Linked DNA regions of Homo sapiens: all the other regions are linked to region 4. Evidence: fine-mapped expression QTL. A gene starts in region 4. Each other region holds a variant in brackets. All regions are shown on one strand. Distances are between the middles of the regions.

Evidence for each region. PIP is the estimated chance that this variant, and not a neighbour inherited with it, causes the effect.
Region 1: its variant is fine-mapped to the expression of LINC00989 in whole blood (TOPMed, PIP above 0.99).
Region 2: its variant is fine-mapped to the expression of LINC00989 in unexposed skin (GTEx, PIP 0.93).
Region 3: its variant is fine-mapped to the expression of LINC00989 in whole blood (GTEx, PIP above 0.99).

The regions. Positions count from the first base shown.
Region 1 is chr4:79,573,984-79,582,093 of GRCh38, reverse strand. It overlaps LINC00989 (long intergenic non-protein coding RNA 989), which reads right to left. Exons shown (of 4, transcript NR_038826.1): 4 at 5,634-6,953. The region is part of intron 1 of LOC107986294 (a long non-coding RNA gene); the gene reads right to left. Among named protein-coding and RNA genes, the nearest start is that of LINC00989, 85 kb to the right of the region's middle. The variant A/G (reference allele first, on the strand shown) is at 3,394.
Region 2 is chr4:79,551,867-79,559,976 of GRCh38, reverse strand. All of the region lies in intron 3 of LINC00989 (long intergenic non-protein coding RNA 989), which reads right to left. Among named protein-coding and RNA genes, the nearest start is that of LINC00989, 63 kb to the right of the region's middle. RefSeq lists enhancers at 1-448, 449-1,446. The variant A/G (reference allele first, on the strand shown) is at 4,163.
Region 3 is chr4:79,515,365-79,523,474 of GRCh38, reverse strand. The region is part of intron 3 of LINC00989 (long intergenic non-protein coding RNA 989); the gene reads right to left. Among named protein-coding and RNA genes, the nearest start is that of LINC00989, 27 kb to the right of the region's middle. The variant T/G (reference allele first, on the strand shown) is at 3,675.
Region 4 is chr4:79,489,200-79,497,309 of GRCh38, reverse strand. LINC00989 (long intergenic non-protein coding RNA 989) reads right to left here and starts at 4,717. Exons shown (of 4, transcript NR_038826.1): 1 at 4,536-4,717; 2 at 3,725-4,158.

The DNA of each region.
Region 1 (8,110 bases), 85 kb before region 4:
CCCATTTAATGGTTAATCCAGGAATGAGAGGACGTTAATTTTAATTACATCATTATATCTACTTTACTTATGTCTTTTTGTGTGCCTTTATTATTTGTTTGAATATTTCAGTCTGGATGAAATTCCATTCAATTGGCCAGTATAATGGAAAAAAAGCCTGAATTTAAATTTCATATCAATAAGTGTACTAAATATTTTCAGAGGAGTCTCATAAAATCAATATGAACCTATATTAAAATATTATGCACTTTTTTATTTGCATCAAGAATTTTGAGACTTTTGGAAGATAGAAGTAGCATCTGCATAGTAACTTTATACAGATATATATTTTAAATTTCTCCAAACTATTTTAAGACTCTAATACAGTGTTAACACAATTCTTTACGGTGATCAGACCTTAGATTATCAATTCAAGAATGAAAATCTGGAAAGCTGCCTAGGAGAATATAAAAAACATAGAAACCTGTCTATGAAAAGAATCCCATTTCTAGGTATATAAGTTTTAATGAATATTTATCACTGGGTTAATAGTCTTTTTCATTTTTTTTTAATTTTCAGGGAATCTTAAGGGAGATAAAATATTAAGAAACTAAAGGTTTCCTATTTGGAGAACAATAAGAACAACAACAAAATACAGTGTCTCATTTATTAATTGAAAAAGAAAAAATTAATTGAGATGGTGATTTTGTATATATGACATCAATAAATGTTACTTTATTGACTTAGGACAATGTAGCTTTGTCATTGACAGAGAGTGATAGCTTTGTAAGAGTAACTACTGTCCCAGTTTTACTTTCTTACTGTTAAAGTAGTAGACAGAAGAGAACCTTAAGATTAACATATCTTCTGGCAAAACACTTTCTAAGCCTTAGCATTTGGCACTGTTTTCCAAGTATGTTTCTGCCCAAGAAAATTCAAGAAAATCATTTATAAATTTCCTTTTTATATGTATAGTTTTATATACCACATTGCCTCATTTGATACTCAAAACAACCTATAGCATAGACAAAGAAGATATAATTATTTCAACTTTAGTGATGAGAAAATAATAAAATAAATTAGTATTTTTTCAAAATGTAGCATGTTGCAAGCACTGTGCTATGAGCATTCATCTGTAATTGATCTTATCTTCACAGCCAACTATAAGATTAATACTATTTTTAATTTTAGTAGCCAGAGGAAGAAACTGAGTTTTAGAGGTTTGGGAAGTTGTCCAAGGTCACATAGCTAGTGAGTGTTAAAAATGGGACCCAACCAGTTCTGTCTGATGCTAAATTCTATGTTCTTAACTTTTGTTCTTCTTACTGTACATGAAATGGCTTTGCAGAGTTCTTGTCAAAGAAGAGTATTTAGGAAGAGTTACAGAATATGGATATTGTAGCAATTGTGAATCACTTTGAAACATATGGCTACTAAATGGAAGAATTGGAATTGAATTCAGGTTTCTGACTCCAAATCATGGGACCCCAAGTCTTAATCTCTGTAGGGTACCCTACATACTGAAACACTTGAGTTAAACAGATGACCAAGTTTACAATCATCCATTAACTCCTTAAATCAGATGGAAAAGTAATTGCCAACTTTGAATTTTAAATTTTCATATCATTATATGATTATCTATGCTGACACCTAGAGTAGTTAAATTTATTTAGCACTGATGAGTACTCTATCTAGGATTTAAGGACAGTTGACAAAATTTCACTTGAACACTAAACCCGGAAGAGTCATGGCAATAATGATGTCTTAGGAGTATTTTTTATGTTACAGGCACTGAAGGTAATGATTTATCAACATTACCTTCTTTCTTTATTCTTAAAAGCATCTCCATTGTAAGTTTATTTTTTATATATTTGTCATGTTGTAAGTTTATTCTTTATATATTTAAATCTCAAGAGACATCAGGTTTTCAAGGGAACCAGTGTCCAGGAAATGAAATCAGGCTTCAAGAGTTAATAGAATGTCTAAGAGATTTCCAGAAGCAATATATGGAGTTTACAGCAGAATTTAGTGAGACCAAACTGGCTGTATGATTAAAAGGTATTCTGGTCATTCCTAGACTGGGAAGGTGACTGGAACTGAGACATGTTCAACCGAATGTCTCAGCCCAGGCCTTCTCTGGGCAGAATGCATTTCACCCCTGTGCTGGCTGTGCTCGCTAACCAGAACCATGTTTTCAGTCCAATGACCCCCTGAGACAGTATGCTTTCAAGGCCTTCGGCTACAAGGTTTGGAAAGTCCTCCACTTTGAAATATATTGCAAAAATTACACCATTATGAATAACAAAGAGAAAGCATTAGAACTCAATCCTATCACAAGACAAAATGTGCTGAAAACGTACATACAGGGTAACTGCCTGTTTTTATTCGGTTGCCAACTGTATGATATGAAAGAATCAGTTTGCTCACCTAGTGATTATATATGAAGAGGAGTAACAGCTTCCAAATTAAAATAATACTCTTCCTTTGGTGAGTGTACATGAGCATAATATTTCATGGAATTTTTTCCCCAGACAGTTAAATTAACTCATTGGAAATGTAGCATACTAAATGATTCCTTCCAAAAAGTAACATGTAATCATTTCTTTTTCAGGCTTGATTAAATTTCCTCTGCCTGTACAAATTTCATATCTGCGCCCAAATTTTATGTATCCATTTCTGATCATTGAACAGAGCACAGACCCTGCATGATCCATCTCTATTATTAGGCAAACTCAAGTAACAGCAGTTCTAGGGCATTGCACTGTAATTGGGGTTATGTTCTAAGGAATGCTATCTACATAGGCTATGTGAATGGCACATACTCCCCAACAATCATACAACAGGATCTCATTTTTATCTAGTAATAGGAGAGCAGTCTAACTAAAGCAGGTCTTTACTGTAAGTGAAATGCATAGCCAACTCAACCTTTCCCATCCCTGCCCCTGATGACCTTCTCAGTAATGTAGAGAAACCAGATATCCTAAATGATCTTATCTCACCTTATCCTTGATCTCACCACCTAATATTCTAATCCCAGCACTGCATGCTAATAATGTAAGTTGTCCATCAATACACTGAATTATTGTTATTCAGGTTTAATATACAGGGCATTCCTATGCAGAGCTGGAGACCAGAGCAGAATCTAAAGCAGATTCCAGTAGACAAGCTAGAATGAAAGGGAGATTCCAGTGATGGTGGTAAATTAAACCAGATTGGGAGCATTTACATTCAGAGAGTCACCACTTGTTCCACCAGCAACATAGAGACATGCTTAAACTATGAGGACAGGCACAGTAGCCGCCGCTGTGGCAATCCTGCCAGCCCTCCTTCTGCGGTCACTTCCCCAGTCACTGCACTGACCAGCTCTTCAGCCACAAGGGGAAGGAACTGGGGATACCACAGACCATTGCCAGA[A/G]CTTTGTTGTGGAATCATAGACAAGTGACAGAAATAAAAACTAAATGTGAAACTCTATAGCACTTATTATAGTTGATTATTGCCTACTCCTTTAGTTTGAAAGCATTACAAGCTATGTAGCAAGTTTATGAAACTCTTTAGCTGGCATATAAACTGATTTGGCATTTATTTTTACTCAAATATGTGTGAAAAACATTAGAGAAAAATCAGCAAAAAAGGATTTTCTCTCTTAAACAAAATTAAAATTAGGGATATTAGAAATTAGCCATATCCAAAAATCATTGTAGTTTAATACTCAGAAATAATGACTGATACTTTTATCCACACCTAACTTTCAGTGAACTCATAGTAAGAAATAAATGAAACCTCGGCGAAGCTATTAGGACATGTCATTTGAGAAAGCAATACCTGACCTTTGGGATTATATGAGATACTCCAGTGTCTTTGTAATACAGTCCCCTTCTTCTGCTTAACTTTGTTTGAGTACAATTTGTCATTTGCAAACAAAAAGAATACCAACCGACAAACTGGAATAGTGAGATTTCCCATGCAGATTTCTAAGGTTTGGGTCATTTTTTTGAAAAGGGATTGGCACACAGTAGGCATTTCATAAATGGTGGCTGTTAATGGCAGAGTAAATTGATCATCCTAGGTTGACATTATGTGTTTTATCCTCAATGAAATAAAGGCAATGGCTATTTTGTAATGTTGGAACCACAGAAAGAGTGACAGATTGGTGAGGGATGAGGACATTGGATGTAGAAACAAAATTAATGCTGGTGGTCAAAAGATGGCAGATGTTAAAGCTGTGTCACTGTCATGTCCCAGTCAGCTATGCTGCCATGTTAATTCCAGGTGTAGCTGTTTAACAACACACAGTGCCTTCAACTACGGTTAGGGTTAAAGTTATGTACAGAATGAGACTCAAACTGAGTTTAATTCTAAAAAAATTTGATTTAATAAAGGCTCTCTTGTAAAATTTATATATAAAACTAATAAACGTTTAAGCTAACTTCCAAGAAAAATGTTAATTCTTTGTTAAAAATTGGAATAATTGGCATTCTAATAATAAACAATCTATTAAAAAACTCGTTTAGGGTAAGAGAGACTATCCCATAATAGGATTAGGCCAGTCATGTTGAAAATAAGCGAACAATATTTCTATTTATTTATTTATTGAGATAGGATCTCACTCTGTCGCCCAGGCTGCAGTGCAATGGTGTGATCTCGGCTCACTGCAACCTCCACCTCCTGGGCTAAAACCATCCTCCCCCCTCCACCCCCCAAGTAGCTGAGACTACAGGCATGCACCACCACACCTGGGTGTATTTTTTGTAGAGCTGGGATTTTGGCATGTTGCCCAAGCTGGTCTTGGACTCCTGGACTCAAGCGATCTTCCTGCCTCAGCCTCCCAAAGTGCTAGGATTATATGTGTGAGCCAGTGCACCCAGCCATATTTTACTTTTATTCATTGATTTAAATTAATGAAAAGTTGAACTATAATTATTTTATAAAGACATGAGGTTAAAAATCAGGTATCTAAACTCAAAAGCAACTAAATATTAATCTTGTCTGTACACAGGACTTAATAATATGATTTAACTATGCATATGAAAATATAGCACATACAAACCTGTCCACATGAATGAGTTCAAATTGTCACCCCTAAAACTGTCTTTATGCTCTGAGAAAAAAAAAGTATAAAATAAGAAATACACGCTTAAGGGAAAAAATAGTGTGTGATAAACCATGATAATAGATAAACGCGGTTATGATCTCTGTCACACATTCTCATCACAGTCATGTAGACATTTGTGGTTTAATTGTGTTACAATCATCTTTATATTAAAAGGTTGAAGACTGAGTGTAGATATTTTTAATCAAAGAATTTTACCTTAAATAGAAGGAATGACATATACTTGTATGCACATGATGACTGACATCTCTAGTTCCTTTCCGAAAATAAAGCATCTGCTGTCATAATTTGAAAAATAAATAAGCAAAATGTCTGCATTTTGGAGGATACATGAGCAACGCACTGAAAGCATCCCTCTATAGTTTACATCTAGTACAATTTCCAATCAGTAGAGGGCTCCCTCGTCTGTGCAAGGCCCACAGTAAAAATGCACAGTCTATACATGCAGCAGTCACACATCATGTGCGTGTTCGCGCACACACACACACACACTCTGTCTCTCTCTCACACACACCATCTAGATTAATAAAGCTGTCAATTTTCATTGTTTTCAAATCACCTTTAATATCAGTTGAGTTTAAAGCTTAGGGGAAGGAACACACAGGCAGCACCCATTGGCAATATGTTAGAACATTCTCTACCTAAAAATACAGATAGGTGTTTACAAGTTTTCTTCATTTCGCTGTGACATTCCTCAGCTCTGATGTGCATTTGGCTGCTTTCCTGAATTCACACATCTCTCTGCTCATGTGCTTGTGCATTTTGCAGAAGTGTCACTACCCAAGCTTTGCAAAATAACGAACTCAATCTTCTAAGTGACTTTGCTGAGGCTATGTCTTTATTATGCCCTCCAAAACTTGAGAGTCAAAAATAAAAATTAGAAAAATGAAGCAACTAGTAATGTTTGCTTTTGACTGAAGTCACTGAGTCCAGCTGTATTTTTTCCCACTGAAAAATAGATGAAGACATCCTAACTGGGTTGAGTTTTATTTGGGATTTTTTTCCCCTCTCCTTGGCCCGTAGGCTAGCTGATTCACTGATGCACAGTGAAAATGCCAAGAATATGCAAACCTCTCTGGGGTAGAAATTTGTAACAGAAAGGGAATTTCTGGCGGTGTAAAAGCAGGGCTGGAATAATCTCAGACTGTACCCCCAGGCCAGTTTTCGTGATACAGTTAAAAACTGGTTGGGCCGCCGGCAGAATCAACTGTTTAAACATCTTGCTGATTGTTTATGGTAGTTGCCCAATAGATGCTTAAAAACATTGGTTTTCATGGACTTCTGGTGGAAACCTCTTATACCCAGCTGATCCTAGGTTATTATTCATATATTTGCTCAGTAGCCAGATCCAAGAATTCATCTGGAAACTCTCAAAGGAGAGAGAAGAGAAAGAGTCTATGATTTTTCAATTCTAGAATCACCATGTCTGAGAAATTTTTCTTGCTCACTCTTTAATGCTCCCCAGAAGGCCCTCTGCTTAATAATCTCACCAGTTTCTTTATATGTCATATATTTCCATTGTCTACTCTAGCCTGCAGTTTAAAATGGGGACATTTTGAAAGGAATGTGCTGCTTTTTGCCCTTTATCCCACTTGCTCTTGCTGAAGTTCAACCTTGAAATGCCTCATCCCATTAGCTATATGCTTCCGGGCATTTCCAGAAGGCATCTCACATATGCTTGAAACAGGTCAGTCAGCTCTCAGGTGACAACTACGAGATACAACAACAACTTTGGTTCAGGATTAGGAAGCCTGATTATGCCACAGATCTGAACCTTGTTGAGCAATCCAAAACTCCTTCCAGTGAAGCAGATATTTTGATCTCCTCTCCAAAGCTTGTGTTGATCTCTCCATTGGTTTCAAAACTGGAGTGGAAGAAAGAAGCATGATTAATCCTAACTATCTCGGCTCTCCAATCTCAACAGCTATGTACTATGATGTTCATAAAGAAACTAAGATTCAGAGAGGTTAAGCAACATGCAAAAATCATCCATTAGTAAGCGACAGCCCCAGAATTCAAATCCACGCTTTCTAAGTCTTAATCCTGTGCTTGTTTCACGGCTCCTGTAACATTAGATAAGAAGCTTACCCTTGCTCTGCAAGGGTTCATATAAAGATTAGGATACTTCTGCCTATAAAACATGAGATAAAAATATAATGGCCTCATAGACTGAAACGATACACAATTCTAAATAAAAATCAATTCTTTATTTTGATATTCAAAGTCACCTACTCTTTATGACCACTACCCTCATTGCAAATGCCCCTATTCTGATGTGCTTTTCCATTAAATAAGATTTACACCATCCTTCTTTGGAGCCTTTGCTCATGCAGACCTTCTCACATTCCCTCTATTTTATTTCTCATTCATCCAATTCTCATTCATGCTTCAGAACCTTGCCTCTAACACCTTTCACCAATTAGCTCAGGTTTTCCTCTGACAGCTATTGTTGTAAACCTCTCAATTTGCATTTATGCATTCTTCATGTTATTTGGGAATTTTGCAAGTGGATATACAATTTTCACATGTCTGGATAGTAATCTCTTGAGATTATGAGTAGTCTTCACTATATATGTAGATATTAAGTGAGCTTATTTATATCAGATATAGACCATACAATCTCATCACTTATAGATGCTTTTTCACTGTATTGATAGATTAATGCTCCCCTTTAAACATACCTCTAAACTACTCAAACTCTATAAATGTATCTCCATATATCCCTGCAATTCTCTTTTTGAAACTAGAACAAATTAAGGGAATTGTTTCTAAAAATTTGAGCTTGAGGTAGAAAAGAGGAAGATGAAAAAATAATAAGTAACATTTTAAACTTTTTCTTACTCTGTTCTATATTCAGAAAATGTTTTAATGATACAATTTTGACATCAGTAGCAAGACAAATTTCCTTTCTTTTAATCACCAAGTCAAAGAATATTTCCATTGAGCTGGTTTCAATGAACAGAGAACTCATATATTTCCACTGACTAACAAAGGAATATTGACATCAAACATATATATTTA
Region 2 (8,110 bases), 63 kb before region 4:
CTAATTTTTTGTATTTTTAGTAGAGATGGGGTTTCATCATGTTGGCCAGGCTAGTCTCAAACTCTTGACCTCAGGTGATCTGCCTGCCTCAGCCTTCCAAAGTGCAGGGATTACAGGCGTGAGCCACCACGTACAGCCCATGACTTTCTTTAGGATGAACTCCTCCTTTAATAGACATAAATTATTCTCTAATCACATTAAATCCCTCATTTTACTAAATCCCCCATCAGCACACAAACATACTATAATATTTTATATCAAGAGAGAGTCAGGCCTCTGAGCCCAAGCCAAGCCATCACATCCCCTGTGACTTGCCGGTATATGCCCTGATGGCCTGAAGTAACTGAAGAATCACAAAAGAAGTGAATATGCCCTGCCCCACCTTAACTGATGACATTCCACCACAAAAGAAGTGTAAATGACTGGTCCTTGCCTTAAGTGATGACATTACCTTGTGAAAGTCCTTTTCCTAGCTCATCCTGGCTCAAAAAGCTCCCCCACTGAGCATCTTGCGACCCCCACTCCTGCCTGCCAGAGAACAAACCCCCTTTGACTGTAATTTTCCTTTACCTACCCAAATCCTATAAAACGGCCCCACCCCTATCTCCCTTCACTGACTCTCTTTTCAGACTCAGCCCGCCTGCACCCAGGTGAAATAAACAGCCATGTTGCTCACACAAAGCCTGTTTGGTGGTCTCTTCACACGGATGCGCATGAAATTTGGTGCCGTGACTCGGATCAGGGGACCTCCCTTGGGAGCTCAATCCCCTGTACTCCTGTTCTTTGCTCCGTGAGAAAGATCCACCTATGACCTCAGGTCCTCAGACTGACCAGCCCAAGGAACATCTCACCAATTTTAAATCAGGTAAGCGGCCTCTTCTTACTCTCTTCTCCAACCTCTCTCACTGTCCCTCAACCACTTTCTCCTTTCCACTCTTTAATCTCTCTCTTCTCTTAATTTCAATAACTTTCATTTTCTGATAGAGACAAAGGAGACACGTTTTATCCATGGACCCAAAACTCCGGCGCTGGTCACGGACTGGGAAGGCAGCCTTCCCTTGGTGTTTAATAATTGCAGGGACGCCTCTCTGATTATACACTGACGTTTCAAGGGTGTCAGACCACGCAGGGACGCCTGCCTTGGTCCTTCACCCTTAGTGGCAAGTCCCGCTTTCCTGGGGCAGGGGCAAGTACCCCAACCCCTTCTCCTTCACCCTTAGCAGCAAGTCCTGCTTTTCTAGGGGGCAAGAACCCCCAATCCCTTATTTCCACGCCCCAACCTCTTATCTCTGTGCCCCAATCCCTTATTTCCGCACCCCGACCTCTTATCTCTGTGCCCCAATCCCTTATTTCCACGCCCCAACCTCGTATCTCTGCACCCCAATCCCTTATTTCCATGCCCCGACCTCTTATCTCTGTGCCCCAACCCCTTTCCCCACTTTTCTGGAAGGTAAGATCCCCCGAACCCCTTCCCTCTGTTTCTCTACTCTCTTTTCTCTAGGCTTGCTTCCTTCACTATGGGCAACCTTCCACCCTCCATTCCTCCTCCTACTCCCTTGGCCTGTGTTCTCAAAAACTTAAAACCTCTTCAACTCACACCTGACCTAAAACTTAAATGCCTTATTTTCTTCTGCAATGCCACTTGACCCCAATACAAACTCGACAGTAGTTCCAAATAGCCAGAAAATGGCACTTTGAATTTTTCCATCCTGCAAGATCTAAATAATTCTTGTCATAAAATAGGCAAACGGTCTGAGGTGGCTGACGTCCAGGCATTCTTTTACACATCAGTCCCTTCCTAGTCTCTGTGCCCAGTGCAACTCGTCCCAAATCTTCCTTCTTTCCCTCCCACCTGTCCCCTCAGTACCAACCCCAAGCGTCGTTGAGTCTTTCTAATCTTCCTTTTCTACAGACCCATCTGACCTCTCCCTTCCTCCCCAGGCTGCTCCTCGCCAGGCCGAGCTAGGTCCCAATTCTTCCTCAGCCTCTGCTCCTCCACCCTATAATCCTTTTATCACCTCCCCTCCTCACACCTGGTCCGGATTACAGTTTCGTTCCGTGACTAGCCCTCCCCCTCCTGCCCAGCAATTTACTCTTAAAAAGGTGGCTGGAGCTAAAGGCATAGAGTCAAGGTTAATGCTCCTTTTTCCTTATCCCAAATCAGAAGCGTTTAGGCTCTTTTTCATCAAATATAAAAATCCAGCCCAGTTCATGACTTGTTTGGCAGCAACCCTGAGACGCTTCACAGCCCTAGACCCTAAAAGTTCAAAAGGCCGTCTTATTCTCAAAATACATTTTATTACCCAATCTGCTCCCAACATTAAATAAAACTCCAAAAATTAAATTCCGGCCCTCAAACCCCACAACAGGATTTAATTAACCTCGCCTTCAGGCATACAATAATAGAAAAAAGTTGCAATTCCTTGCCTCCACTGTGAGACAAACCCCAGCCACATCTCCAGCACACAAGAACTTCAAAACGCCTGAACCGCAGTGGCCAGGCGTTCCTCCAGAACCTCCTCCCACAGGAGCTTGCTACACATGCCAGAAATCTGGCCACTGGGCCAAGGAATGCCCGCAGCCCGGGATTCTTCCTAAGCCACGTCCCAGCTCTGTGGGACCCCACCGAAAATCGGACTGTTCAACTCACCTGGCAGCCACTCCCAGAGCCCCTGTAACTCTGGCCCAAGGCTCTCTGACTGACTCCTTCTCAGATCTTCTCGGCTTAGCGGCTGAAGACTGACACTGCCCGATAGCCTCGGAAGCCCCCTAGACCATCACGGACGCCAAGCTTCGGGTAACTCTCACAGTGGAAGGTAAGCCCATCCCCTTCTTAATCAATACGGAGGCTACTCACTCCACATTACCTTCTTTTCAAGGGCCTGTTTCCCTTGCCTCCATAACTGTTGTGGGTATTGATGGCCAGGCTTCTAAACCTCTTAAAACTCCCCAACTCTGGTGCCAACTTAGACAATACTCTTTTAAGCACTCCTTTTTAGTTATCCCCACCTGCCCAGTTTTCTTATTAGGCTGAGACACTTTAACTAAATTACCTGCTTCCCTGACTATTCCTGGACTACAGCTATATCTCATTGCCGCCCTTCTTCCCAATCCAAAGCCTCCTTTGCGTTCTCCTCTTGTATCCCCCCACCTTAACCCACAAGTATAAGATACCTCTACTCCCTCCTTGGCGACCAATCATGCACCCCTTACCATCTCATTAAAACCTAATCACCCTTACCCCACTCAACGCCAATATCCCATCCCGCAGCACACTTTAAAAAGATTAAAGCCTGTTATCACTCGCCTGCTACAGCATGGCCTTTTAAAGCCTATAAACTCTCCCTACAATTCCCCCATTTTACCTGTCCTAAAACCAGAGAAGCCTTACAAGTTAGTTCAGGATCTGCGCCTTATCAACCAAATTGTTTTGCCTATCCACCCCGTGGTGCCAAACCCATATACTCTCCTATCCTCAATACCTGCCTCTACAACCCATTATTCTGTTCTGGATCTCAAACATGCTTTCTTTACTATTCCTTTGCACCCTTAATCCCAGCCTCTCTTCGCTTTCACTTGGACTGACCCTGACACCCATCAAGCTCAGCAAATTACCTAGGCTGTACTGCCGCAAAGCTTCACAGACAGCCCCCATTACTTCAATCAAGCCCAAATTTCTTCCTCAACTGTTACCTATCTTGGCATAATTCTCATAAAAACACACGTGCTCTCCCTGCCAATCGTGTCTGACTGACCCCTCAAACCCCAGCACCTTCTACAAAACAACAACTCCTTTCCTTCCTAGGCATGGTTAGCGCGGTCAGAATTCTTACACAAGAGCCAGGCCCACACCCTGTAGCCTTTCTGTCCAAACTTGACCTTACTGTTTTAGCCTAGCCCTCATGTCTGCGTGCAGTGGCTGCCGCTGCTTTAATACTTTTAGAGGCCCTCAAAATCACAAACTATGCTCAACTCACTCTCTACAGTTCTCATAACTTCCAAAATCTATTTTCTTCCTCATACCTGATGCATATACTTTCTGCTTCCCGGCTCCTTCAGCTGTACTCACTCTTTGTTGAGTCTCCCACAATTACCGTTGTTCCTGGCCCAGACTTCAATCCGGCCTCCCACATTATTCCTGATACCACACCTGACCCCCATG[A/G]CTGTATCCCTCTGATCCACCTGACATTCACCCCATTTCCCCAAATTTCCTTCTTTTCTGTTCCTCACCCTGATCATGCTTGATTTATTGATGGCGGTTCCACCCAGGCCTAATCGCCACACACCAGTAAAGGCAGGTTATACTATAGCACAAGCCACTAGCCCGCCTCTTAGAACCTCTCATTTCCTTTCCATAGTAGAAATCTATCCTCAAGGAAATAACTTCTCAGTGTTCCATCTGCTATTCTACTACTCCTCAGGTATTCTTCAGGCCCCTTCCCTTCTCTACACATCAAGCTCGAGGATTTGCCCCACCCAGGACTGGCAAATTAGCTTTACTCAACATGCCCTGAGTCAGATAACTAAAATACCTCTTAGTCTAGGTAGATACTTTCACTGGATAGGTAGAGGCCTTTCCTACAGGGTCTGAGAAGGCCACCGCAGTCATTTCTTCCGTTCTGTTAGACTTAATTCCTCAGTTTAGCCTTCCCACCTCTATACAGTCTGATAACAGATGAGCCTTTATTAGTCAAATCAGCCAAGCAGTTTTTCAGGCTCTTAGTATTCAGTGAAACCTTTATTTCCCTTACGGTCCTCCATCTTCAAGAAAAGTAGAATGGACTGAAGGTCTTTTAAAAACACACCTCACCAAGCTCAGCCACCAAAAAGGACTGGACAATACTTTTATCACTTTCCCTTCTCAGAATTCAGGCCTGTCCTCAGAATGCTACAGGGTACAGCCCATTTAAGCTCCTGTATAGAAGACGCTCCTTTTCATTAGGCCCCAGTCTCATTCCAGACACCAGACCAACTTGGACTGTGCCCCAGAAAACTTGTCATCCCTACTATCTTCTGTCTAGTCATACTCCTATTCACCATTCTCAACTACTCATACATGCCCTGCTCTTGTTTACACTGCCAGTTTACACTGTTTTTCCAAGCCATCACAGCTGATATCTCCTGGTGCTATCCCCAAACTGCCACTCTTAACTCTTAAATAAATAATCTTTGCTGGCAGGACTATGCTGAATCTCCTTAGGCAGTCTCTAATCAGATATCCTGAGTCATCCCAATTCTTAGACCTTTTATACCTGTTTTTCTCCTTCTGTCATTCCATTTAGTTTCTCAATTCATCCAAAACCGTATCCAGGCCATCATCAATCATTCTATATGACAAATGTTTCTTCTAACATCCCCACAATATCACCCCTTACCACAAGACCTCCCTTCAGCTTAATCTCTCCCACTCTAGGTTCCCACGCCGCCCCTAATCCCGCTTGAAGCAGCCCTGAGAAACATCGCCCATTCTCTCTCCATACCACCCCCCAAAAATTTTCGCCGCCCCAGCACTTCAACACTATTTTGTTTTATTTTTCTTATTAATATAAGAAGGCAGGAATGTCAGGCCTCTGAGCCCAAGCCAAGCCATCGCATCCCCTGTGACTTGCATGTATACGCCCAGATGGCCTGAAGTAACTGAAGAATCACAAAAGAAGTGAATATGCCCTGCCCCACCTTAACTGATGACATTCCACCATGAAAGAAGTGAAAATGGCCGGTCCTTGCCTTAAGTGATGACATTACCTTGTGAAAGTCCTTTTCCTAGCTCATCCTGGCTCAAAAAGCACCCCCACTGAGCACCTTGGGACCCCCACTCCTGCCCGCCAGAGAACAAACTCCCTTTGACTGTAATTTTCCTTTACCTACCCAAATCCTATAAAACGGCCCCACCCTTATCTCCCTTCGCTGACTCTCTTTTCGGACTCAGCCCACCTGCACCCAGGTGAAATAGCTATATTGCTCACACAAAGCCTGTTTGGTGGTTTCTTCACACGGACGCGCATGAAAGAAAAGAAAGAGAGAAAGTGAAAGAAAGAGAGGAAGGAAGGATGGAAGGAAGGAAGGTAAGAAAGAAGGAAGGAAGGAGGGAGTGAGGGAGGGAGGGACAGAGGGAGGAAGGGAGGGAGGAAGGGAGAGAGGGAGGGAGGGAAATACTCTTCAACTTCATATTCCTCTTCAACCACTATAGCATATCTCTGCTTCCATTTATGGAAAAGCTTCAAAATAGTTGTGTGTACTCATTGTCTCCATTTCCTCTCCTTTTTTCACTCTGGAACCCACCAAAATTAGGCTTTTGTTCTCATCATTCCAACGAAAAGCTCTGGTCAAAGTCCCTGCAATGTCCATTTTGATAAATCAAGTCCTGCATTCATAATTTTTATCTTTAATTCAACCTATCTGTGCCTTCCACACAGTTGATCACTTCTTCTTGTAGTACCCTGTTCATTTGGCTTCCAGGACACTATTCTCCTTGTTCCTCTTTCATCTTATTTACTGTACCTGGTTATTTTACTTTTCTGGTCTCCTATCATCTTATAATAATGAAATTTTCCAGGGCTTAATCATTAGACCTCTTTCCTCTTTTTGGCAAAACCCACTGACTTTCATTTCACCCTATGGATGTGAATACTATGCCTATACTGACACTTGCAAACATTCATATTTCCATTCAGTACCCTTCCTTGAACTCCAGATTCTTACTTTCAACTAGTCACTTTACCTCTCCTCTTAGATATCTAATATATAACTCAAATGTAACAGCTGCAAAGGTGACTTCATTTATTTTCTTCTTCCTTCCAAAACGATTTTGTTTTTCCGAATCAGTGACAACGACTTCCTTTAAATTGCTCAAGTCAAATTTCTTGGGGCCATTTTCACTTTTCTCTTTCTCTCATACTCTAAACTGTGAAGGAAAAAAATGCTCTGGAGTGATTCATCAGGCAAGGAAAACTATTTGGTCCCAGAACTTTGGGAGGCTGAGGTGGGAGTATCACTTGAGCCCAGAAGTTCAAGAGCAGCCTGGGCAACAGAGTGGGACCCTGTCTCTTCAGAAAGAAAGAGAAAAAACAAACTAGCCAGGCATGGTGGCATTCACCTGTGGTGCCAGATACTTGGGAGGCTGTGATGGGAGGGAGGTTGAGGCTATAGTATTCATGTTCATGGCACTGCCTTCCAGCCTGGGTTCAGAGCTAGGCCCCATCTCCAAAAAAGAAAAAGAAAAACTTTACTCAAAATTATTGCAATAAGGATCGAGTCCATTGCAAAAGGAGAGATAGGTTGAAACAAAAAGTAGGAGAGATTTTAAGCTCAGAGGTGAGATAGTGCAAAAGTACTGGAGAAAGTTAGCCAGGAGGTTGGTCAATGCCAATAGACCATCTGTGTTTGCTAATTGTCATTTATTGCCCCCCTTCCCTTTCACAGAGACTGGGAGATAAGGGCCCTGTGTTTCTAGCTTATTACATTTAAAAGAAAAGGTTTCCAGGTCTTTTGGAGAGACATTCCTTGGTTGTAGAAAATTTACATTTCAAAGAAACAGAGAAGGTATTTAAGATTGCAAAATTTCTAAAGGAAATGCTCAAAGAAAAGGGAGGTCAAGGGCCCATACTCATAAAAAAACCTGTCTAAAGTTAAGTCAAGATGAAGGGAAGTCAAGATCATCTTGGTCAATATACAATCAATCACATATCTATCCACAAAATTCACTTTTTACAGGTCTTTGCTCAAAGGTCACATGACTAGGGAGTTTTCTTGACCTCCCTTTATAAAATAGCAATCTCCCTCACATTTTTCCACTACACATGCATACCTGTCCATCTTATCACCCTCAAACTGTGGCATTTATTTATTTAGTTCATTTTTTCTACTTTATAAATTTTTATTTTATTTTAGATTGAGGGAGTATATGTGCAGATTTGTTACATGGATGTTTTGCATAATGGGGGTTTGGAGTTCTGTTGTACTCATCACCCAAATAGTTACCATTGTACCCAACAGACAATTTTTCAACCCTCATGTCTATCCCACCTTGCCTGCTTTTGGAGTCCCCAGCATGTATTGTTTCCATCATTACGTTCATGTGCACCTAGTTGTTAGCTCCCACTTATAAGTT
Region 3 (8,110 bases), 26 kb before region 4:
AGGTCCTGAAAATGATCCTAGTCACTTACTTCTTGGTTGGTCCAAGTACATGACTGCCTCACTAAAGGCCAAATAGAAGAGAAAGAATGGTGATTTGTCTACTGGATGGACTTCAAAATTATGAAAGTAGAAGTGGTTGTTTATTGGTTTTATAGAAATATCATCAGAGAAGATGAGAAATTGCAGGCTCTGGAGAATACACACACACACACATTCAGTCAGTCAAGGAACAGAGGGTCAAGTAGAATGAACGGTACCATCCAGATTCCCTATCATCTATAGAGCATTATCAGACATGGCTTTTCTTAGCAGGGCCGAGGAAAGAATATTTACAAGATCACAGCTACTCAAAACCCAACATGCCAACTTCTAAATATACGCCGTTGGAAAGTATAGGAGTGGAGAAAAATACAAGAGCTTAAAAATGTTGGTTTTTGATGCTTTTGAACCAATTCTCATGGCGATTTACACCATAGCCTGCAAGACATATCTCAGGCATTTCTTGTGCGGAATAAGACTTTCCCAACAATTAGCATAATAGCTTCAAACCACACATGATGGGAACAACTTTATCTTGATTGTTCTTCCTTATAAGACATCAAAGGTGGAACAGAGCAGAATAGTCACGACACAGATGAAAAAAAAAAAAAACATAATCATCAGTGCTTGTTTTTACCATCCTCCACCTAAATGTTTTCTTACACTGTTTTCTTTCTGCCTTCTCCCCTCTCCAGGCTCTGTTATCCTCCCTACACTCCAACTATACTACTCTAATTTTGCATTCTGAATGTCTTTATGCTTTGGTTCTAAATCTCCTAAAACAGGTCCTGATATTTCATATTTAGATGTGTATTTATATAGTCTCATTTTTTTACTTACCAGTGTTCACACACACACACACACGCACACACAAGATACAGAAAAATGAGAAGAAGGAATATCTCAATTAAATCATGATTAGCAACTTTTCAAAGACAAGGTTGTAAATGTCAGATCCAGGGAAGTTGACATAATAAAGTGTTCCTAATTTTAGTTTCCATTGAAGGTGAGCGGTCTGTGGCTAAAGATTAACATCCCTCTCTAATCAGAAATATCTGAGACACTTTTTATTCAGGTATGCCTAGTCCTTTTTCTGTAGATGATTCTAGTATAGCTTTATATTTCATGAAAGTCAGTCTATGAAACCTATTTCTGAACCCACAGTAGTAGTCCCTTAGATAGGACTTCTCTTCACCCAATCACCAATACATACACAATTCCAGCATTCTTTAATTCAAAATCTGGATTTTTTTCATCATGTGACTCCAGTGAAACTGGTGTTTTACAATAATCTACCCAAATTATATGTTCAATACCATTCACATACATCTGAATGATCTGTTCTATAACCATGAAGGATATCCGGAATGTATTGTTACAGAGAAGCAAGACAAAATCAAAATACTACAAGCCCTATCACCCCTTAAGGCCCAATTTTAGGCACATTAAAGGTTTTGTATGTATTTAAAATATTCATTATTCTTTATTAAATCACTTTCAGAATTCCTTATTTTCCCGTAGCTTCTGGGAACCAGTTGCATAAAACTTAGCACAAAATTCTTGTACAAATTTACCCTTGTGCCTTTACTGCCAATTATTACATGTCCTGTTGACATCCTAAACCAGACATGCCATTTAAATAGTAAGCTATCATAAGAAATATACAGACTTTTATCTTAATATAATGTCATCTATATGTTGCTGTGAACCTGGATTTGAAAATATAATAGGATGGTCATTCTAAGGCAAGAGCGAGAGGGAAGTATAAGGTTTTTACAGGTACCTTCAAAAGCCTAATTCAAGCTTAAATGTGGTGACTGACAAGTGTTTATTTTATTCTTTAACTGAAAGCTATTCTGGGGTTTATTTTGTCATTTTAGGGGTCTTCTTTTTGTTAATTAAACCATCCTTTTGGAGAGTTTTTAAAATATTTTTTTCTTTGTCAGCTATTGGTTATTAAATTGTAGTCCTCAGCTTATGACTGCAGTAACAGATGTCTCCTAGTTGGAGTGAGGTCAGAAGGTTCCTTTTGAATGAATGTAAGGAAAATACATCAGTACAATAGAGCAAAAGGTATGTATGTCCCAGACAGCTGAAGAAGTCTGCTCAGGATACAAAGTAGAGATAGGGCATTAGTGCACTTAATCACTTTTGTGTTTGGCCTAAAATAATTTAATGATTAACTTAGAAACCAGGGAAACAGTCATAGAAAGTTGACAGTTTCAGTATGATATTGGCTTGGGTTTGTCATATATAGCTCTTATTATTTTGAGATACCTCCCATCAATACCTAATTTATTGAAAGTTTTTAGTATGAAGCGTTGTTGAATTTTGTCGAAGGTCTTTTCTGCATCTATTGAGATAATCATGTGGTTTTTGTCTTTGGTTCTGTTTATATGTTGGATTACATCTATTGATTTGCGTATGTTGAACCAGCCTTGCATCCCAGGGATGAAGCCCACTTGATCATGGTGGATAAGCTTTCTGATGTGCTGCTGGATTCGGTTTGCCAGTATTTTATTGAGGATATTTGCATCAATGTTCATCAAGGATATTGGTCTAAAATTCTCTTTTTTGGTTGTGTCTCTGCCAGGCTTTGGTATCAGGATGATGCTGGCCTCATAAAATGAGTTAAGGAGGATTGTCTCTTTTTCTATTGATTGCAATGGTTTCAGAAGGAATGGTACCAGCTCCTGTTTGTACCTCTGGTAGAATTTGGCTGTGAATCCATCTGGTCCTGGACTTTTTCTGGTTGGTAAGTTACTGATTCTTGCCTCAATTTCAGAGCCTGTTATTGGTCTATTCAGAGATTCAACTTCTTCCTGGTTTAGTCTTGGGAGGATGTATGTGTCGAGGAATTTATCCATTTCTTCTAGATTTTCTAGTTTATTTGCGTAGAGGTGTTTATAGTATTCTCTGATGGTAGTTTGTATTTCTGTGGAATCGGTGGTGATATCGCCTTTATCATTTTTTATTGTGTCTATTTGATTCTTCTCTCTTTTCTTCTTTATTAGTCTTGCTAGTGGTCCATCAGTTTTGTTGATCTTTTTAAAAAAAAAAAAACAGCTCCTGGATTCATTAATTTTTTGAAGGGTTTTTTGTGTCTCTATCTCCTTCAGTTCTACTCTGATCCTAGTTATTTCTTGCCTTCTGCTAGCTTTTGAATGTGTTTGCTCTTGCTTTTCTAGTTCTTTTACTTGTGATGTTAGGTTGTCAATTTTAGATCTTTCCTGCTTTCTCTTATGGGCATTTAGTGCTACAAATTTCCCTCTACACACTGCTTTGAATGTGTCCCGGAGATTCTCGTATGTTGTGTCTTTGTTCTCATTGGTTTGAAACAACATCTTTATTTCTGCCTTCATTTCATTATTTACCCAGTAGTCATTCAGGAGCACGTTGTTCAGTTTCCATATAGTTGAGTGATTTTGAGTGAGTTTCTTAATCCTGAGTTCTAGTTTGATTGCACTGTGGTCTGAGAGACAGTTTGTTATAATTTCTGTTCTTTTACATTTGCTGAGGAGTGCTTTACTTCCAACTATGTGGTCAGTTTTGGAATAGGTGTGGTGTGGTGCTGAAAAGAATGTATATTCTGTTGATTTGGGGTGGAGAGTTCTGTAGATGTCTATTAGGTCCAC[T/G]TGGTGCAGAGCTGAGTTCAACTCCTGTACATCCTTGTTAACTTTCTGTCTCGTTGATCTGTCTAATGTTGACAGTGGGGTGTTAAAGTCTCCCATTATTATTATGTGGGAGTCTAAGTCTCCTTGTAGGTCACTAAGGACTTGCTTTATGAATCTGGATGCTCCTGTATTGGGTGCATATATATTTGGGATAGTTAGCTCTTCTTGTTGAATTGATCCCTTTACCATTATGTAATGGCCTTCTTTGTCTCTTTTGATCTTTGTTGGTTTACAGTCTGTTTTATCAGAGACTAGGATTGCAACCGTTGCCTTTTTTTGTTTTCCATTTGCTTGGTAGATCTTCCTCCATCCCCTTATTTTGAGCCTATGTGTGTCTCTGAATGTGAGATGGGTTTCCTGAATACAGCACACTGATGGGTCTTGAGTCTTTATCCAGTTTGCCAGTTACTGAATGGGAAAAACTGGAAGCATTCCCTTTGAAAACGGGCACAAGACAGGGATGCCCTCTCTCACCACTCCTATTCAACATAGTGTTGGAAGTTCTGGCCAGGGCAATCAGGCAGGAGAAGGAAATAAAGGGTATTCAATTAGGAAAAGAGGAAGTCAAATTGTCCCTGTTTGCAGATGACATGATTGTATATGTAGAAAACCCCATTGTATCAGCCCAAAATCTCCTCAAGCTGATAAGCAACTTCAGCAAAGTCTCAGGATACAAAATCGATGTACAAAAATCACAAGCATTCTTATACACCAATAACAGACAAACAGAGAGCCAAATCATGAGTGAACTCCCATTCACAATTGCTTCAAAGAGAATAAAATACCTAGGAATCCAGCTTACGAGGGATGTGAAGGACCTCTTCAAGGAGAACTACAAACCATTGCTCAATGAAATAAAAGAGGATACAAACAAATGGAAGAACATTCCATGCTCATGGGTAGGAAGAATCAATATCGTGAAAATGGCCATACTGCCCAAGGTAATTTACAGATTCAATGCCATCCCCATCAAGCTACCAATGACTTTATTCACAGAATTGGAAAATACTACTTTAAAGTTCCTATGGAACCAAAAAAGAGCCCACGTTGCCAAGTCAATCCTAAGCCAAAAGAACAAAACTGGAGGCATCACGTTACCTGACTTCAAACTATACTACAAGGCTACAGTAACCAAAACAGCATGGTACTGGTACCAAAACAGAGATATAGACCAATGGAACAGAACAGAGCCCTCAGAAATAATGCCACATATCTACAACCATCTGATCTTTGACAAAAGTGACAAAAACAAGCAATGGGGAAAGGATTCCCTATTTAATAAATGGTGCTGGGAAAACTGGCTAGCCATATGTAGAAAGCTGAAACTGGATCCCTTCCTTACACCTTATACTAAAATTAATTCAAGATGGATTAAAAACTTAAATGTTAGACCTAAAACCATAAAAACCCTGGAAGAAAACCTAGGCAATACCATTCAGGACATAGGCATGGGCAAGGACTTCATGTCTAAAACACAAAAAGCAATGGCAACAAAAGCCAAAATTGACAAATGGGATCTCATTAAACTAAAGAGCTTCTGCACAGCAAAAGAAACTACCATCAGAGTGAACAGGCAACCTACAGAATGGGAGAAAATTTTTGCAATCTACTTATCTGACAAAGGGCTAATATCCAGAATCTACAATGAACTCAGACAAATGTACAAGAAAATAACAAACAACCCCATCAAAAAGTGGGTGAAGGATATGAACAGACACTTCTCAAAAGAAGACATTTATGCAGCCAAAAAACACATGAAAAAATGCTCATCATCACTGGCCATCAGAGAAATGCAAATCAAAACCACCATGAGATACCATCTCACACCAGTTAGAATGGCGATCATTAAAAAGTCAGGAAACAACAGGTGCTGGAGAGGATGTGGAGAAATAGGGACACTTTTACACTGTTGGTGGGACTGTAAACTAGTTCAACCATTGTGGAAGTCAGTGTGGCAATTCCTCAGGGATCTAGAACTAGAAATATCATTTGACCCAGCCATCCCACTACTGGGTATATAACCAAAGGATTATAAATCATGCTGCTATAAAGACACGTGCACACATATGTTTATAGCGGCACTATTCATGATAGCAAGGACTTGCAACCAACCTAAATGTCCAACAACGATAGACTGGATTAAGAAAATGTGGCACATATACATATACATATAGCTTCATGGAATACTATGCAGCCATAAAAAATGATGAGTTCATGTCCTTTGTAGGGACATGGATGAAACTGGAAACCATCATTCTCAGCAAACTATCGCAAGGACAAAAAAACCAAACACCGCATGTTCTCACTCATAGGTGGGAATTGAACAATGAGAACACATGGACACAGGAAGGGGAACATCACACACCGGGGACTGTTGTGGGGTGGGGGGAGTGGGGAGGGATAGCATTAAGAGATATACCTAATGCTAAATGATGAGTTAAATGGGTGCAGCACACCAACATGGCACATGTATACATATGTAACAAACCTGCAAGTTGTGCACATGTACTCTAAAATTAAAGTATAATAATAATAAAATACAAAAAAAAGAAAGTTGACAGTTTCATCCATGTAATTTTCTCTTAAAATGTATTTCACTCATGCCAGCAAATAATACTAGGTAAAGCACTGTCCTTTCACATCCCTTAGAAACTGTTGCTGTAAAATTATTTATTAGCAAAATTGAAACCATCACTTCAGATTTCACTTATACATTTTCACATAGCTCACCTTCAGTGTGATCCTATATTTATGCCTGTCTAAGCTCAATATCTTTCAATATTTACTTATTCAATTTAACATTTACTGAGTACCTTTTTGTGCCATAAAACATACTGGAACGTGGCATCTGCCTTGTGTCTTGAGGATGCTATATAAAGAGATAGATAAATATAGATGTAGATGGGAGCATTGATTTATAAAAATAAATGCAGAAATGAATATGTAAAAATAAATATAATAAGGTGATAATACAGTGTGGATATTTAGAGAGTACAGAGCTTATTTTGAAATGCTTTTTATTTTAATATATTTATCTTATTATTTAACAACTATTTATTTGTAAGCCTGGCATTACTGTTGTCATAATTCTTACATATTATAGAAACTTCAAAACAGAAGTGATTCCTAGATTCTGTTCAGTGTTAGAAATTGTTATTAGATTGAAGACCAATTCATGTCTTATGGAACAGCTCCATTTTCAGAAACGCACAAAAAATGTCTACCAATCAAATCCCAAAGAAGATCCATCATTCATTTATCTTGAAAAAATAAAACTTGCTCAGTTTAAGCTCTTTTATACTATACTTTTTAATTCTCTAATTCCAGATTATTTCTATTATTTTCTTCTCCAAATATAGTTTTTTTAATTTACTTTTTTAGTTGTTTTGGAAATAGCTGTGTTTTCTTTTCGACAATCTGAAAGCTGATTCAGGTGCTTTACTCTCAAATGAAAGGTCAGCATTTCTAGATTTCCCTCATGCAATTTTCTAACATTGTTACCTATTTTGTTTCAGTGTTAGGAGTTCTCTGACAAAGAATTTTAAAAACCAACCAATCCTAGGACATAGTGCGAAGGGAAAGAGGAGAGAGGCTAACTCTCTCTACCATTTGCAATGAAATCTCTGCTAAAGCTTCCTAGAAGTTGGTATGCCCAGTCCATCAGGAGTCATATTGTCTGATACTCTCTTAACTGAAATCTCGACTTCTTTATTACTTTGTGAAGCTCCTACAGCCACGTTAGATGAATTATCTGAAAAGCTATTAATAGGTTCATTCTGAATCCACCAAATAATCACATGTCCTGTCACAAGTCCATCAACGCTGGACTCATTGAAAATTCAAATCGTAAATTGTTTGCCAGGGAAATATGTGATCTATTTTCAGTGTGTGCTGGTGTTCAGTAAGATGCTGCAAAACTAGAAATAGAACACCTATTTTTAAATTGAACATAATATTTTCTTGAGCCACCACTAGATTCAATGCACTGCAAACAATGCAAATATGAATAAGACAAGCCTAACTCTCAAAGGTGGAGATTTCGAACTGATAGCACAGGATGTGTTTTTAAGACATGTGTTAAACAATCCTGTACATAATAAATGGTAGAGAATTTTGGTAAAGGGAGAATGAAGGGCTCATGGGTTCAGGGTAAAAAGGCAATTAAAGAAAGCTTCAAACATAGGTGACATTTGGGTTTGTCTTCAGGGAAAGACAGTGAGTGGAGAATATTTCAAGCAGCAGAAATCAAATGAGCAATAAAAGTAGAAAAGTGCAAATGCCTGATAAACATTTACTGAATGAAATGGTCCTAGCAACACTCAAATCTTTTTTCTTTTTTCTTTTTTTCCTTTTGGCAATGGTAAGGATTTCCTCATCTTAAACTCTGAATTTTGGGG
Region 4 (8,110 bases):
AGATGCTATGATCCCTCCCATATGTGTAATCCTCCTGTTGATGTCAATCCAAAATACTATGCTCATGTTACGGTATCTCCTCTACATCCTTATTGTAAATTCACATTCTGAGTTAGAGCAGCTGAACATCTAGTCCTCAAACAGCTGACTCCAATTTTTCCTTCCCTGTCCATTCCTACCCTCACTGTCATAAGATGGGCACATTCTTTGCTCCCAAGAAAGATGCTTGTCCCTTGTTTTGTAAAACACAAAACAAATAAAGAAACAAAAGAAACTAAATAACACCTCCTTGAAGATAAGATATACTACAGAAATGTTGTTACATTGAACTAAATTGCATTCCACAGAAGATAGAAGAGGGTATCATGAATGTATCAAAACAACTAAGTTAAACATAAAATAAACTACAAATCTTTTTCATGCCTGAATCTATCTCCTTTTTTTCACTTTTCTCTCCTCACCAAAATACTGAATGGGAATGAAACAATTCAGATATCTAGATTTATAAATCTATAAAATTTTAAATTTTCTATCAGTACAAATAAATTAAAGCAAAGCAAATAATCGGCAGAATTTTTGAACATGTACTCTAGAAGTGTTTTGTTATTTCTATATCTGTACATTTTATAATTTATTGAGTTTCAATATTTTATTGAAAAATATATCATGATTCAATCCAGCAAAGTTGTAGACGGTGGCATGCCTCCAACATAGGACTAACTGATTAGTTTAAGCACATCAGAGACTGTATCTTCAGTTGTCCCTCAGTATCTGTGAGGGATTGTCCCAGGACATCTGTCCTACCCTGCGCTGCCCCTGCAGATTACAAAAACCAGTGATGCTTAAGTACCTTATATAAAATGGCATTGTATTTGCATATAACCAACTCACATTGTCCCCTATAATTTAAATTATCTCCAGGTTATTCATAAAATGTAATACAATGTAAATGCTATGTGAATAGTTGCTATACTGTATCATTTTTTGTTTTGTGTTAGTTTTACTGGTGTACTTTTTTTTCTGACATTTTCAAAGGCATGATTGATGGAAAACATGGATACAAAACCCATGGATATGAAGGACTGACTATAGACTTACAATGCTTGAGTATACTATAAACATAATAATGCTTCAGTTTAGAATGTTGATTTTAGCATCTATTTCCTAAGATGAGAAGAAAAAAATGTATCTTCCTTTGCTCTGAGTGGTTTCATCTTTTCTTTGACATTTTGATAGCAAAAAAGATTTTTAACTCAATTTAATAGTTGTAGGAATATGTCTACTAATAATTGTACTGATTTCTCCAGAACAAAATGAACTGTATATCCAACTCTCTTCAAACTGTCATGCTTATCTCAGTGTGTATGTGTCACTATAAGATGAGAAAGCCTGTCAACACCAACTTCTTCCTTCTAAACAAGAACACTAGGATGTTCATTTCTCATTGAAAATTTGGATTTCTGAGCTGTCTCCTTCCCTTAACTCCTACCCTCCAACACAGAACATGCCTGACATCAGACCCTTACTCCTGAGCCTTTTCCCACTTCATTCACCTGACAGCCTCCTCCACAACAGACATCTTATCAGACGTGACTGATTGCTATAATCTGTACTCTGGGCAGCCATTAAGCAAATTACCTGAATCATTGCAAGGATTAGTCTCATTAACACATGATTAGCATCAAATTAAAATAATGAGTGTTTAACTTCTGATGTCTTCCAGTTGTTTGAACAGCTTGATCAGCCACACCAGGCTGGCAGGGAGGTGGGGGTGTCAAAGAGCCACAGAAAAAAAGGGAGGCAGCACTGTGCAAGACATAGTACAGCTCACCAGTAGAATGAGGTAAGATCAGACTCAAACTGTCTGGATGAAAGGTTTCTTTCAAACAGCAAAGATGCCCGGTCCAAACAGAGGTGTCTCTCTCTCTCTCTCTCTCTCTCTCTCTCTCTCTCTTTCTCTCTCATTGGCACTGTACTCCTAACCATCCATCTGAATCAAGGCTTTACATACTAATGGTGCACAATCTCGCCCGCTCCACATCCTGGATATTTTATTTCCGCTGGGCTTCCCTGTCTCAGGAGCACAGAATGCAGCTTTTCTCTTTCCTTTTCAAAACTTTATCAGACTTAAGACCCCTAAAGTGCTGGGAGTATGGTAGACTGAAGATTAGAGCACAGATCCTCCCGAGTTCCCATATTTGTAGCTGGAAATGGCTGACCAAATATCAAAACAACAGGAAGTTTGCATCAGCTCTGGAAACTGTGAAGAATATCATCCACATATAGAAAGTTAAAATAATCTGCTAGATCCTACATAGACTGGTCCCAACTTACGATGGTTTGACTTATGGTTTTTTGACTTTAAGATGGGTTTATCGGTGTATTAAATGCGTTTAGACTAATGATACTTTTGACCTATGATGGATTCATCCAGATGTTACCCCATTGTAAGTCAAGGAGCATCTGTGCCCATGTCGAAGATTTGATGGAAGCCTAAAGGACCAACTCACTTTTGTCCTACCTGTGGAACATCAGCACTTATGGAAAGTAGGCGGGTAGCTTACAGTGACCCTTCCACTCCAAAACTTAGGGCACCTTATCTGTCTGGTGATGGTCAAGACAATCAGAGAGCCTGGACGAGCTCTTTTTGCCTGAGCTAGTGAATAAAATAAACAGCTGTTGTGATAAATTTCTCTATCATTCCCTTGAAAAAGATTAATATGAGGAGTGTAATGTTATGGAAGAAACAATCTAAGATCAGGAAAAAAATGTGAAGATAAAAATCATTGCTAATATAAACACCCACAGTTAGGTATTTCAGGAGAGGAAAACAACAAATCATTTCCTCTACTCATCTTAGGTTCTCCAGCAGAGGCCCTGTGAATTAGACTAGCCAAAGACAGATTAATTAGAGACAAATAGGCAGAAGTTTTCTCAGTGGCCTTTAACAAAAAAAAATAAAAATAAAAAAAAATTGTATTCCAAAGAGGCTTATTTTGAAGTGATATATTCCAGTACCCCTCAGAATACATTTCTGTCGTATGAAATAATCCCATGAACCATAAAGGAACAAAAAAACAGAATGTCTGTAGATCAGACTTTATTTGCAATATTAAATGCTAAGAAAAACAAAGGTTTACAGAGCTTTGGGCAGAAAAGATTGAGATCCAAGGCATTTTAGTTAGAAAAGCTCATATTTATATGCTAGAGCGACAGAAAGTTGTTTTTAGATACACTAGACTGAGAGGCAATGTCATATAAAATTCTTTGTGAAAAAAACTATTTGACTAGTCACTTAAGTCAACTAAGAAATAAATATAAATAACTCAGCAAATAGAATTCTTAGCTCTATAGAGTGATTAGCTTTAAAATTTCAAATGTAGTACTTACAAGATAAAAATACAAAATATTAAGCTAATAATTAATAATAACCTGGATCTGAAATCTGAGATTATATCAGCAAAACAGTGTGAAGGAAAAATAGTAATGTGAAAATTATGCCAAATGTAGCATCTGAGCTGGAGGGATGTGAATGATAATAGTTACTGTTTTACTCTGTTCATAGATGATGAGAGAAAAATAGACCCAAGTAAGTTTTAAAATGCTTAAAATTTAGAAAATTGAACTTTCTGTGTATCTGTATTAGTCAGGGTTCTCTAGAGGGACAGGACTAATAGGATAGATATATATATAAAGCAGAGTTTATTAAGGAGTATTGACTTACACAATCACAAGGTGAAGTCCCACAATAGGCCATCTGTAAGCTGAGGAGCAAGGAAGCCAGTCCAAGTCCCAAAACTTCAAAAGTGCAGCCTTCCGTCTGTGGCCAAAGGTCCAAGAGTCCAAAAGCTAAAGAACTTGGAGTCTGATATTCGAGGTCAGGAAGCATCTAGCATGGGAGAAAGATGAAGGCCAGAAGACTCAGCCAGTCTAGTCTTTCCAAATTTCTCTGCCTGATTTTATCCTAGTTGCACTGGCAGCTGATTAGATGGTGTCCCCCAAGATTGAGTATGGGTTTGTGTCTCCCAGCTCACTGATTCAAATGTTCATCTCCTTTGGTGACACCCTCACAGACACACCCAGGAACAATACTTTGCATCCTTCAATCCAATCAAGTTGACACTCAATATTAACCATCACGGAATCCTTTCCAAATCCCTAAAAGAAAAAATAATAATAATATAGTCAATATAATAAACATCAGCTAGAAAAGAAATAGGTGAGCAAAATAGAGAATCTCTGACAAGATCAGAAAGAATAATATAATTAGTGTAAAACGTTTTAGTAGTTCAATTAAAAACTAAAGTTTCTCAAATTAAAACATTATTTTAAAATCTTTACTTAATAGAAAAAGACCAAAAGTCAAATGTCAGAGAAGTAGTAAGAAATTTTTTAAATGGCAGAAATATATCATAAATACAAAGAAAAATAAGGAAATAATAGCAATCATAATGTAGAATAAAATATAATTCGAGATAAAATTGGTGAAGAATCACACCAGGAACATATCAGAAAAACCAAAAGAATTCACAGACCATTTGAAATAAGCGGCTTGCCACTGAAAACTCCATGAGACTGCCAAAAAACTGAGTGCCTGAAGTGTGAGAGGGGGAAATCCATCTCCAAACATACATCGGCCCTGGAGAACCTGAAAATCCAGAAGACGGGAGAAGAGTTTAACCTTACCTAGAGCTGAAATGAATTTAGAGAGCCCAGTGAAATAGAAAAGTAAAAGAAGTGGGAAAAGAACTGCAGGCACTCTTGTTCCCCAGGGAAGCCAAGGATAGCCATTTCTGAATTTATCTCACAGGGGTCCTTGAGGAGGGCAGCCAGTGGAATTGGGGAAGGTCCACAGGGAGAAGGAGACTTCCAGCTGAACTTTGTAATAATTTCCAAAGACGACAAATTTTCCTGGGCAGAGTCCAGGGGGTTGGGGTGTGGGGAACGGGAAGTACAGATAGGAGCACAGAAGCCGCAACAGGAAGGGAAGGGTGAGGACTGAAAGCCATGCTTGCTCTCTCAGCAGGGAGTCTTGTAGCCTGGGGCAGGATCTCAGCCCTGTGCACCAGAGGCCTGGGTATAAATTGGGCACTGTTGGCTGCTGGGGGAGTATGGCAGGAATGAGACTGGCCTTGCTGGTTTCATGGGAGCTGGGTAAGGCCTGTCACTGATGGCTTTCCACCACTTACCTGGCAACCTGTAGGAAGCAGCAGAGGCAGCCATAATCTCCCATGGAACATAACTCCATTGGCCTGAGACACACCCCATATCCCTCAAAGTGGCCACTGCAAGCCCAAGGAGAGTCTAGGCTGAGACCTGCCTAACCCTGCCCCCACCTGATGGTTTTCTCTACCCTTCCTGGTAACCAGAGACAAAAGATATAAACTTGTGGGAGCTCTATGGCCTCACCTATTACCTGAGACGACTGAATATTTACCCTGGCCAACTTAGGGCAAGCCTGTATCCCCCTTCTACTACCGCAGCTGATGCTCTCTTAAAAGTGCCACCTCCTGGCTGGAAGTCAACCAACTCAAGCCATTACAGCAACTTAGAACAATCCTACTCCAAGAAAGGAGAAAACACCACCTGTAACACCCTGGCTAACCAGAGGTCCTGAGTCTGTCCACATGACAGCTTCACTGCTAGCAAACCAGCATTCGAGAAAATCTGCACACTAAACAAACTACAACCAGCACTCTCACAGAGTCCACTTTGCTTCCCTGCTACCTCCACTGGGGCAGGTACTGGCATCCACAGCTGAGAGACCTGAAGACAGGTCTTCACAGGATCACATCACAGAAATCTTTGCAGACACTCCCCAATACCAGCCCAGAGCCCAGTAGCTCCACTGGGGGACTAGACACAGAAGAACAATAACAATCACTGCAGTTTTATTCTCAGGAAGCTCCATTTCTAGGGGAAGAAAAAGAACACCACATCAAGGGATCACCCCATAGGAAAAAAAAATCAGATTAGCAGCCCTTGAGTCCCAGATCTTTCCTCTGAAATAGTCTACCCAAATGAGAAGGAACCAGAAAAACAATTCTGATGATATGACAAAGCAAGATTCATTGACACCCCAAATGATCACACAAGCTCACCAGCAATAAAAAACAAACAAAAACAAACAAACAAAAAAAAAAACAAGGTAGTCAGGCAACAACTAGCAGGATGAATAGAACAGTACCTCACATCTCAATAATAACATCGAATGTAAAAGGCCTAAATGCTCCACTTAAAAGATACAAAATGACAGAATGGATAAGAATTCACCAGTCAAGTATCTGCGTCTTCAAGAGACTCACCTAACACATACAGACCCATATAAATGTAAGGTAAATGGATGGAAAAAGATATTCCATGCAAATGGACACCAAAAACAAGCAGAAGTAGCTATTCGTTTATCAGACAAAACCAACTTTAAAGCAACAACAATTTAAAAAGACAAAGAGGGACATTATAGAATAATAAAAGGACTAGTCCAACAGGAAAATATTACAATCCTCAATACATATGCACCTAAAACTGGAGCTTTAAATTTACAAAACAATTACTCCTAGAATTAAGAAATGAGATAAGAGGCAACACAATAATAGTGGGTGACTTCAATACTCCACTGACAGCACTAGACAGGTCATCAAAAACAAGTCAGACAATGGACTTAAACTATGCCCTAGAACAAATGGACTTAGCAGATATATTCAGAACATTCTACCAAACAACTGCAGAATATATGTTCTATTCATCAGCACATGGAACATTCTCCAAGGTAGATCATATGATAGGCACAAAACAAGCCTCAATAAATTTAAGAAAATCAAAATTATATTAATATGCTCTCAGACCACAGTGGAATAAAATTAAAAATCAACTCCAAAAGGAATCCTCAAACCATGCAAATACATTGAAATAAAATAATCTGCTCCTGAATTATATTTTGGTAAACAATGAAATTATAATGGAAATTTCAAAATTACTTGAACTGAATGATAGCAATAACACAACCTATGAAAACTTCTGTGATACAGCAAAAGCGATGTTAAAAGGAAGGTTCATAGCATTAAATGCCTACATCAAAAAGTCTGAAAGAACACATATAGATAGTCTAAGGTCACACTTCAAGGAACCAGAGAAATAAGATCAAACCAAACCCAAACCCAGCAGAAAAAAAAAAAAAAAAAAGAAATAACAAAGATCAGAGCAGAACTAAATGAAATTGAAACAAAAAAATACAAAAGATAAATAAAACAAAAAGCTGATTCTTTGAAAATATAAACAAAATTGATAGACCATTAGCAAGAATAACCAAGAAAAAATGGGAGGAGATCCAAATAAGCTCAACCAGAAACATAACGGGATATATTAAATCCAATAACACAGAAATACAAAAGATCATTCAAGTCTTCTATGAATACCTTTACACACACAAACTAGAAAACCTAGAGGAGATGGATAAATTCCTGGAAATATGCAAACCTCCAAGATTAAACCAGGAAGAAATACTCTGAACAGACAAACAACAAGCAGCAAGATTAAAATGGTTACAAAAAAACATTGCCAACAACAAAAAAAAAAGTCCAGGAACAGATGGAATCACAGCTGATTTCCATCAGACATTTAAAGAAGAATTGGTACAAATCCTATTGAAACTATTCCAAAAGCCAGAGAAAGAGGAAAGCCTCCCTGAATCATTCTATGAAGCCAGTATCACGCTAATACCAAAACCAGAAAAGAACATAACAACAACAACCAAAAAACTACAGACCGATATTCCTGACAAACATAGATGCAAAAATTCTCAACAAAATACAAGCTAACCAAATCCAACAGCATATCAAAAAGATAATCCACCATGATCAAGTGGGTTTCATACCAGGGATGCAGGGATGGTTTAACATCTGCAAGTCAATAAATGTGATACATCACATAAACACAATTAAAAACAAAAATCGTAAGATCATCTCAACAGAAAAATAAAAAGCATTTGACAAAATCCAGCATTCCTTTATGATTAAAACCCACAGCAAAACTGACATAGAAGGGACATACCTTAAGGTAATAAAAGTCATCTATGACAAACGTATAGCCATGTTATACTGATTGGGGAAAA